Regions from separate parts of the Homo sapiens genome. Here region 2 is reported to be linked to region 1. The links are microRNA targets in miRTarBase. Many come from high-throughput screens and were not tested one by one. Region 1 holds a microRNA gene; the other region holds the end of a gene's coding sequence.
The links. Region 1 holds the annotated microRNA hsa-miR-4271 (GGGGGAAGAAAAGGUGGGG, at 1,835-1,853, shown strand). A microRNA usually pairs through its seed, bases 2 to 8, with sites in the 3' UTR of a target mRNA and lowers its output. Matches are read on the target gene's strand: a 7mer-m8 pairs with bases 2 to 8, a 7mer-A1 pairs with bases 2 to 7 and ends in A, and an 8mer does both.

Region 2: the mRNA of E2F3 is a reported target of hsa-miR-4271. Seed matches in the 3' UTR shown: 7mer-A1 at 1,365-1,371.

Annotation. Positions count from the first base shown.
Region 1 is chr3:49,272,324-49,276,392 of GRCh38, forward strand. MIR4271 (microRNA 4271) reads left to right here and starts at 1,797; the gene lies at 1,797-1,863. C3orf62 (chromosome 3 open reading frame 62) reads right to left here. Exons shown (of 3, transcript NM_198562.3): 2 at 1,726-1,817.
Region 2 is chr6:20,489,817-20,493,885 of GRCh38, reverse strand. E2F3 (E2F transcription factor 3) reads right to left here. Exons shown (of 7, transcript NM_001949.5): 7 at 172-3,718. The coding sequence ends at 3,456. Among named protein-coding and RNA genes, the nearest start is that of CDKAL1, 43 kb to the left of the region's middle.

The sequences.
Region 1 (4,069 bases):
CCTTGTCTCTATTTATAAAAAATACTACTACTAATAATAAAAAGACAAAATAAAAAATAGAGCACATGTAGTTCACATACAGGACATTCAGATTTGTATGTAGAAAAAAAGTCTGACAGGATGTATGCTATACTATATCTATATTAACAGTGGTTATCTCTGGGTGGTAGAATTATAGGAAAGCTTTTGACTTCTAATTTTTCTCCTAATCTTTTTTTTTTTTTTTTTTTTTTTTTTTTGAGACAGAGTCTCATTCTGTCACCCAGGCTGGAGGGCAGTGGTGCGATCTCGGCTCACTGCAACCTCTGCCCTCTGCCTCCTGGGTTGAAACAATTCTCATGCCTCAGCCATCCAAGTGGCTGGGATTACAGGTGTGCACCACCACGCCTGGCTAATTTTTTGTGTTTTTAGTAGAGAAGGGGTTTTGCCATGTTGCCCAGGCTGATCTCGAACTCCTGACCTCAAGTGATCTGCCCGCCTCAGCCTCCCAAAGTGCTAGGACTAAAGGTGTGAGCCACTGTGCCCAGCCCTTTTCTCCTAATCTTTAATTACTGACCCCAGCTAAATTACTCTCTCCTTTTTGCCTATGTCCTGTTTCCTAAAAATTTAAGCTCAATCACCATGTCCTAGTGGCCACCATCCCTTGCCTTCAGGGACTCAGTGCATCTAAACATTGATGACATGACCTGATTGATGTATCTATCACCTCACAAGATAATCAGTTGTATGAGGGAAGGGACAGGTTTTGTTAACATTCAGTTCCCTAATCAATGCAGAGTCTGAGCAAAACATCTACCAAATAAAAAGATAAGAGTGTTTTGGCCGGGAGTGGTGGCTCTTGCCTGATCCCAGCACTGGGAGGCCACAGTAAGTGGATTACTTGAGACTAGGAGTTCGAGACCAGCCTGGACAACACAGCAAAACCCTAATACAAATATTAGCCAATCATGGTGGCGTGCACCTGTAGTACTAGTGTAGTACTATGGCTACTTGGGAGGCTGAGCTGGGAGGATCACCTGAGCCCAGGGAGGTTGAGGCTGCAGTGAACTGTGATCGTGCCACTGCACTCCAGCCTGGGTAATATGATGAGACTCTGTCTCTCCCCCCAAAAAGTGGTGGTGGTGTTTTTTCTTTTGAGATGAGGTCTCGCACAGTTGCCCAGGCTGCAGTACAGTGGTATGATCATAGCTTGAACTCCTGGGCTCAAGTGATCCTTCCACCTCAGCCTCCCTAGTAGCTGGGATTATGGGCACACACCACTGTGCCCAGCTAATTAAAAAAAATTTTAAGAGACAGATCTCGCTATGTATGGTACCCAAGCTAGAAGAGAGTGTTTTTTGTTTTTTTTTGAGATGGGAGTCTCACTCTGTCCCCCAGGCTGGAGTGCAGTGGCAAGATCTCAGCTCACTGCAACCTCTGCCTCCCGGGTTCAAGCAATTCTCCTGCCTCGGCCTCCCGAGTAGCTGGGATTACCGGCGTGCACCACCACGCCTGGCTAATTTTTGTATTTTTAGTAGAGACGGGGTTTCACCATATTGGTTAGACTGGTCTTGAACTCCTGACCTCATGATTCGATCTCCTCGGCCTTCCAAAGTGCTGGGATTACAGGCATGAACCACCGTGCCTGGCCGAGAGCATTTCTTATATCTGAGATATTTGCTGACTCAGACCCATGTGAAGGACCTATCTTCCCAAGGACAGGATGGACTTGCCCACTGTACTCACCAATCATATCAAGCAGATCCTTTGTGACCTCTTGGCTAGAATTGTTGAGTGGCATGTTTGAGTCAGCCTTCAAATCTCTCTCCATATCTTTCCTGCAGCCCCCAGGTGGGGGGGAAGAAAAGGTGGGGAATTAGATTCTCTTTCAAGAAAATATTGAAGGGAAACTCAGTTTTAGATAATCTCAAAGACAAAAACTTACTGGTGACCTTGTCATTTATGCTTTGATTAAAGGACAATTGGAAACTGCTACATCAGTGGAGAAATTGACTAACAGCTTTACCATAATGACTCACGAGCATCGCAGACTGTATTAAATTTTTTTCTTTTTTAGAGACAGGGTTTAGCCATGTTGCCCAGGCTGGTCTCGAACTCCTGGGCTCAGGCGATCCACTCGCCTCAGCCTCCCAAAGTGCTGGGAATACGGGCATGAGCCACCTCACCCAGCCTGCATTTGTTTACTTATTTATTTATTTTTATTTTTTATTTATTTTTTTGAGATGAAGTCTCGCTTTGTCCCCCAGGCTGGAGTGCAATGGCGCAATCACGGCTCACTGCAACCTCTGCCTCCCAGGTTCAAGTGATTCTCCTGCCTCAGCCTCCTGAGTAGCTGGGATTACAGGCGCCTGCCACCACGCCCAGCTAATTTTTGTATTTTTAGTAGAGATGGGGGTTTCACCATGTTGGCCAGGCTGGTCTCGAACTCCTGACCTCAGGTGATCTGCCCGCCTCAGTCTTCCAAAGTGCTGGGATTACAGGAGTGAACCACCGCGCCTGGCCTGTTTGTTTTAAAGACAGAGTCTTGCTCTTGTCGCCCAGGCTGGTGTGCAAGGGCGCAATTTCGGCTCATCGCAACCTCCTTCTCCTGGGTTCAAGCGATTCTCCTGTCTCAGCCTCTGGAGCAGCTGGGATTACAGGCGGCCGCAACGGCACCCAGCTAATTTTTCTATTTTTAGTAGAGACGGGGTTTCACCATGTTGGCCAGGCTGGTCTCAAACTCCTGACCTCAGGTGATTCATCCGCCTCAGCCTCTCAAAGTGCTGGGATTCAGGCGTGAGCCACTGTGCCCAGCATTTTTTTTTTTTTAAGATGGAGTCTTGCTCTGTTGCCCAGGCTGGAGTGCCATGGCAAGATCTCAGCTCACTGCAACCTCTGCCTCCAGGATTCAAGCAATTCTCCTGCCTCGGCCTCCCAAGTAGCTGGGATCATAGGCGCGCGCCACCACGCTCGGCTTATGTTTGTATTTTTAGTGGAGACGGGGTTTCACCAGACCTCAAGCGATCCACCCACCTCAGCCTCCCAAAGTGCTGAGATTACAGGCGTGCCACCACACCCGGCAAGGCCTGCACTGCTTATGAGTACCAATATAAATATTTGTGGAGTTGAAAGGAAAAAAATTCTTGTGGAGTTGAACCAATTAAATGGCCTCTTTATCCCCTTCCTATGAAGCAGCCAAGATGGCAGAACTTTGAAGTTTTTTTTTTTTTTTTTTTTTTTTTTTTTGATACGGAGTCTCGCTCTGTCGCCCAGGCTGGAGTGCAGTGGCGTGATCTCGGCTCACTGCAAGCTCCGCCTCCCGGGTTCATGCCATTCTCCTGCCTCAGCCTCCCGAGTAGCTGGGACTACAGGCGCCCGCCACCACGCCCGGCTAATTTTTTGTATTTTTAGTAGAGACAGAGTTTCACCGTGTTAGCCAGGATGGTCTCGATCTCCTGACCTCGTGATCTGCCCGCCTCGGCCTCCCAAAGTGCTGGGATTACAAGTGTGAGCCACCGCGCCCGGCCTGAAGTTTCATCTCATACATTCATCCCTTCTCCAAGTCAAGGTGCCTGGGACCAGGCAATTTCAAGTTACTCGGGAGAAGAAAAAGTCTAGAAGAGACCTGGTGATGGTCCAAAAAGATCTGGGGTAAGAGCGGGGAGCAGAGGCAAAGATGAAGCCAGGAAGTAGGGCCCAGCCTTCAATTAAGCCTCTCCCTAATGTGGGCAAAGGAGGGTATCAAAGGCCCCAGTGTCCAGATTCAAACACAGGAGTTAAGATGGAATTAAGACTTTTGTTTCTGCAACTTAAAAAATAAGGTTATTTTTAAAACCCGGTTATTTTACATCCACTACCCCTTTGGGTACTGCAAAGTGGTTTCCATGACTGGTTTTTGACATCAACGATTGACAACTAGCCCCTCAACTGGAACATATACACAAAATATAACTGTTTCCTAGGCCAGATTCTGAAGAATGTCTGTCAACTCCCCAAATGCAGTCACAGAGCTGCCAAGAGGAGGCAAGAGCACTGTCATGAACTAAATCTAGGATCTTCAACAACTTTTTCAGAAACAAGAATCCCCTTA
Region 2 (4,069 bases), not on the chromosome of region 1:
GTGGAGGTTGCAGTGAACCAAGATTGTGCCACTGCACTCCAGCCTGGGTGAGAGTGATTGACTCTGCCTCAAAAAACAAAACAAAAAAAAAAAAAAGAAAAAGAAAATGAAAAAAATTCAATTAATAGAGGAGCACAAGATAATATTAAAGAAAACCCATCCACAAGCCTGAACTCTTAAAAAAAATCATTTTATTGATCCTTTACCATACAAAATTTATTCAAATTACACCCATTTGAAGTGGTAAGATCACAGCTAGAGAACAGGTCACCCTGTAACAAATCTATTTACAAAATCCATCATAAAAGCTTTTTTTTGTTTTTTTTTACATTATATTACATATTTTCTTTTTTAAACTAGCATACAACACAAAGCTAAACTGATTAGTAGTTTGCCTACTCCCAATTTTGGGAGAAATACTTCCTTTTTACAAAATCACGTACCCCGTAGGAAAAGAAATTCCCACACCCTGACAATTGCCACCCGACTTACTCTGCAAGCCATCTTCCTTCATATCCCTCCTTCTCATACACACGAGTTGTCATGCACACACTGAATTCTTATTTTCTTTTTCCTGAAAGCTTAAGCTTTAAATACTGCAATTTTATTTACAGATCTACACGTACAACAAAAATGAAAACAAGAGCCACAACAAAGAACAGAAAAACAAAAACAAAATAACACTCTTAAAAAATTACAAAGCAGCTAGAAAGTATTCTGGCAGTGTTTACAAATTAATTGCTATTTTTGTACAAAATTGCTAAATAATGAAAATGTGAGTAGACTACATATCAACTTAAATAAAACGATTGCTATGCACAACTCTGTACATATAAACACACTCCTAACACTGTTTGACAGCTCATGTGTTGCCCTTTATACATTTTATTTTCTAAGGCTCACGCAGTCATAATTTGCACACTTGTAACTTTTAGCCATTTCGTGTGTGAGCTTTAATAGCAGCAACTCAATGGTACCAGGAAACCTGCATACTTAGTACTTAAAGTAACGCAAATACTGTAGTACTAACCCACTTTGTGTGCCGGATACTAAGTCAAAAAGAAAATTACTTAATGCAAACAAAATACAGTATGGACATCTAATTAATGTACACCAGTTAAACCCAGTAACTGGAAAAAAATCTTATGCATGAAGGAACTTTTAAGACTTATTAGTATTCCTTTCATTTTAAAAACAATAAATACGGCATTACATTATGAAAAAATTCAACAAAACACACAACAATCTAGCCAGGTGAGCTCAGTCTTTAGACTTTGGAAAAAATCAGCTTTGTGCAGCTGGCAAAGAGAATTACACAAAGCTGGAAGCAGAGGCAGCTAACCAGATGAGATAAATATGGGAAATGGGGAAAAGCTTGGCATAAATGGTTTCCCATACAGGAAAAAACCCCACAGTGCATTTCCAGTAGGCACTTAACACAAAGCTCCCTCTCCCTCCCCCACCCCAATGCTTCATCTAGGACCACACCGACATTTTGTACCAAGTCCAGTGTGTGTGAGGGGAGGAGGCCAGGGATGGAGGCTGAAGAAGAAAAAAAGGAAGATAGTCTGCACCTTTGTTTTTCTTCCCAAACATACACCCACGCATACCCACACAAAGAGTTTAAAGTGCTGGTGTCATCTGTCTTGACCCCACCACCACTTTGCATATTGTGGAAATCTACCTGGAGTAAACTGGCTGGGGCTCTTGTGGTTTTTTGTGTGTTTTTTTTTTTTCCTAAGGGATATTTTCAATTCAATTAAACATATGAGTTGAGTGCCTACTATGTGCCTACCATTGGGTCAGGCACATAGCATTTCAATTTAACTGTTCGTTTCGAGGTTTGTTCTTTATCTGACTCCCTCATTCCCGCAGTCCTTAGCATCCAAGGAATGGACCGGAGATACTACGCCATATTCCCAGTGGGAGATGGCCGCTGCCACCTGCCCGAGGGAAAGCCATTCTTGGACATAACTGGTAGGATTTGCAGCTGACACAAAGCCTCCAACTTGGGACACCATTCCTGAAGAGTAAAGCGGGAGACACCCTGGCATTGTTTTGCTTCATTTTTTACGTCCCCGACTTCCCTTGGTCCAACTTATTCCTTCATAGAGGAAGGGGAACGGGGTCTGGCCAGAACTATTCCAGCCCCCGACACAGGGCTGCTCCCTGTTCCTGCCAGCTTAAGGAAATGCCACTCACACAATGGGGATGTCTTTCTCCCTAGAGGTCTCTCCATCTGACCCCATCCTGAGAAGTGGTCTCCCTGAGTGCGGTGTAAGAGAGCCCTTTCCCCTGTCACAGGGGCCCGGGAAGCCCAAGGATGGAGGGACCCATGCCTGCTGCTCCTTGGGGCTGTTACATCATCTGACCTGGTTCTCCTTTCCAATGGGCCACCCATGTCAGCAAGCCCCAGGACTGACTCGCTCCAAGCTCCCCCTCCTGGGAATGGAAGCACGATGGGACAAAGCTCCTTGCAGAGGCTGATAAACCTTAGATCACACAGGTTTAGATGCTCTGATCAGTAGAGGTTCTCTCCCTCTGCTTAAGTAATATGAATTTGCAAAAACCGCTTCAAAGTAAACAATTAAATTGAAATGGTGATGGGTGCCACAGGAATGCTTAAATGGCAGCTAAAAAAATTAAAAGTCTAGAACAATCCACAAAGAACTAAGTAGGCATTTGCTACAAATCAACTGGAAACTCACAAACACATTGGGGACGGGGGAATGGGAGTGGTTCATGGAGACAGGAAAATCCACAACAGCTTAGAGTGGCAGAACTCTACTAGTCTTCTGTATCTGCAACAAGTATATTTGAAAACAGGTTCTTCATCCAGAAGGCTGTGGAGGTTTTCTTGACCTCCTACTGGGACACACAGTTCATAGCTTAAACTGAATTATGACAGTAATTTAAATATTCCTAAGAAGAGCTGAAGAAATCCATTTCATACTTTTGCATGACTTCAAGTTTGCATTTGCTGCAGTTCCATTCCATATTAGCAGACCTCAAAGACATGCATTCTGCGGAGAAGGCACGGCTTGAAATGCTATTAAGGAAGATTGCTGTTTCCCAGCAGGCCAGGTGGCCAGACCCCATTCTACAGCCCATCCGTCAGGCACAGCAAGCCAATCCGGGGAGGAAGGAGGAAGGACAATTCGGGGTGAGAGACACCTGATTGCACATTTTCTCACTTGCTGACTTAGCCAGGAGATCTTGGAGCCTGGAGCAAAGCAGGGCTTTCCCAAGGGAGCCTGCAACTGTGCGTTTAGACAATTTGTTTATTAATTTTTTAAAAAATTCATTAAAATGTCAGCTTTCTTCTGAAGTTTGTAGTTTACTTCATGATACTCTCTTGGAGGAAGAAGGTAGGAAGGGACAACACTGCATGACAGATGTTCTGGTTCCATGATAAAAAAATATCGGTTTTTAAGGAGAGTTCACACGAAGCATAATCAACTACACATGAAGTCTTCCACCAGTGGGAGCTTTTCCAAATCGTAAGCATCGAAGAGATCGCTGATGCCTTCCTCCTCCCCGAGGCTCAGGAGATAGTCCTCTTGCAGCAGGGGAGGCAGTAAGTTCACAAACGGTCCTTCTAGGTTGGAAGGAATTTGGTCCTCAGTCTGCTGTAAGAGGTTGGCTGGGGAGGCCAGAGGAGAAAGGTTTCCCATAGAAACTGAGCAATCGCTATGTCCTGAGTTGGTTGAAGCCAAGTCTGAAAAGAAAACATTGATGGAAACAAAAAATAAGTTAGAAAAATCAAATGAATTTTTCTGGAAGAATGTATATGTTGCTGTTAGAAAAAAGCATGTACCTTCCGCAAATAATGACAATGAGACGACTTTATGATGCAGATCACCTTTTATGCTAACAGGTACAAAAAAGTTCCTTGCCACCCCCGTCCCCCTTTTAATTTTTGAGACAGGGTCTTATTCTCTTGGCTGGAGTGCAGTGGTGTGATCATGACTCACTGCAGTCTTGAACTTCTGGGTTCAAGGGACCCTCCCACCTCAGCCTCCCAAGTAGCTGGGACTCCAGGTGTGAGCCACCATGCCTGGTTAATCTT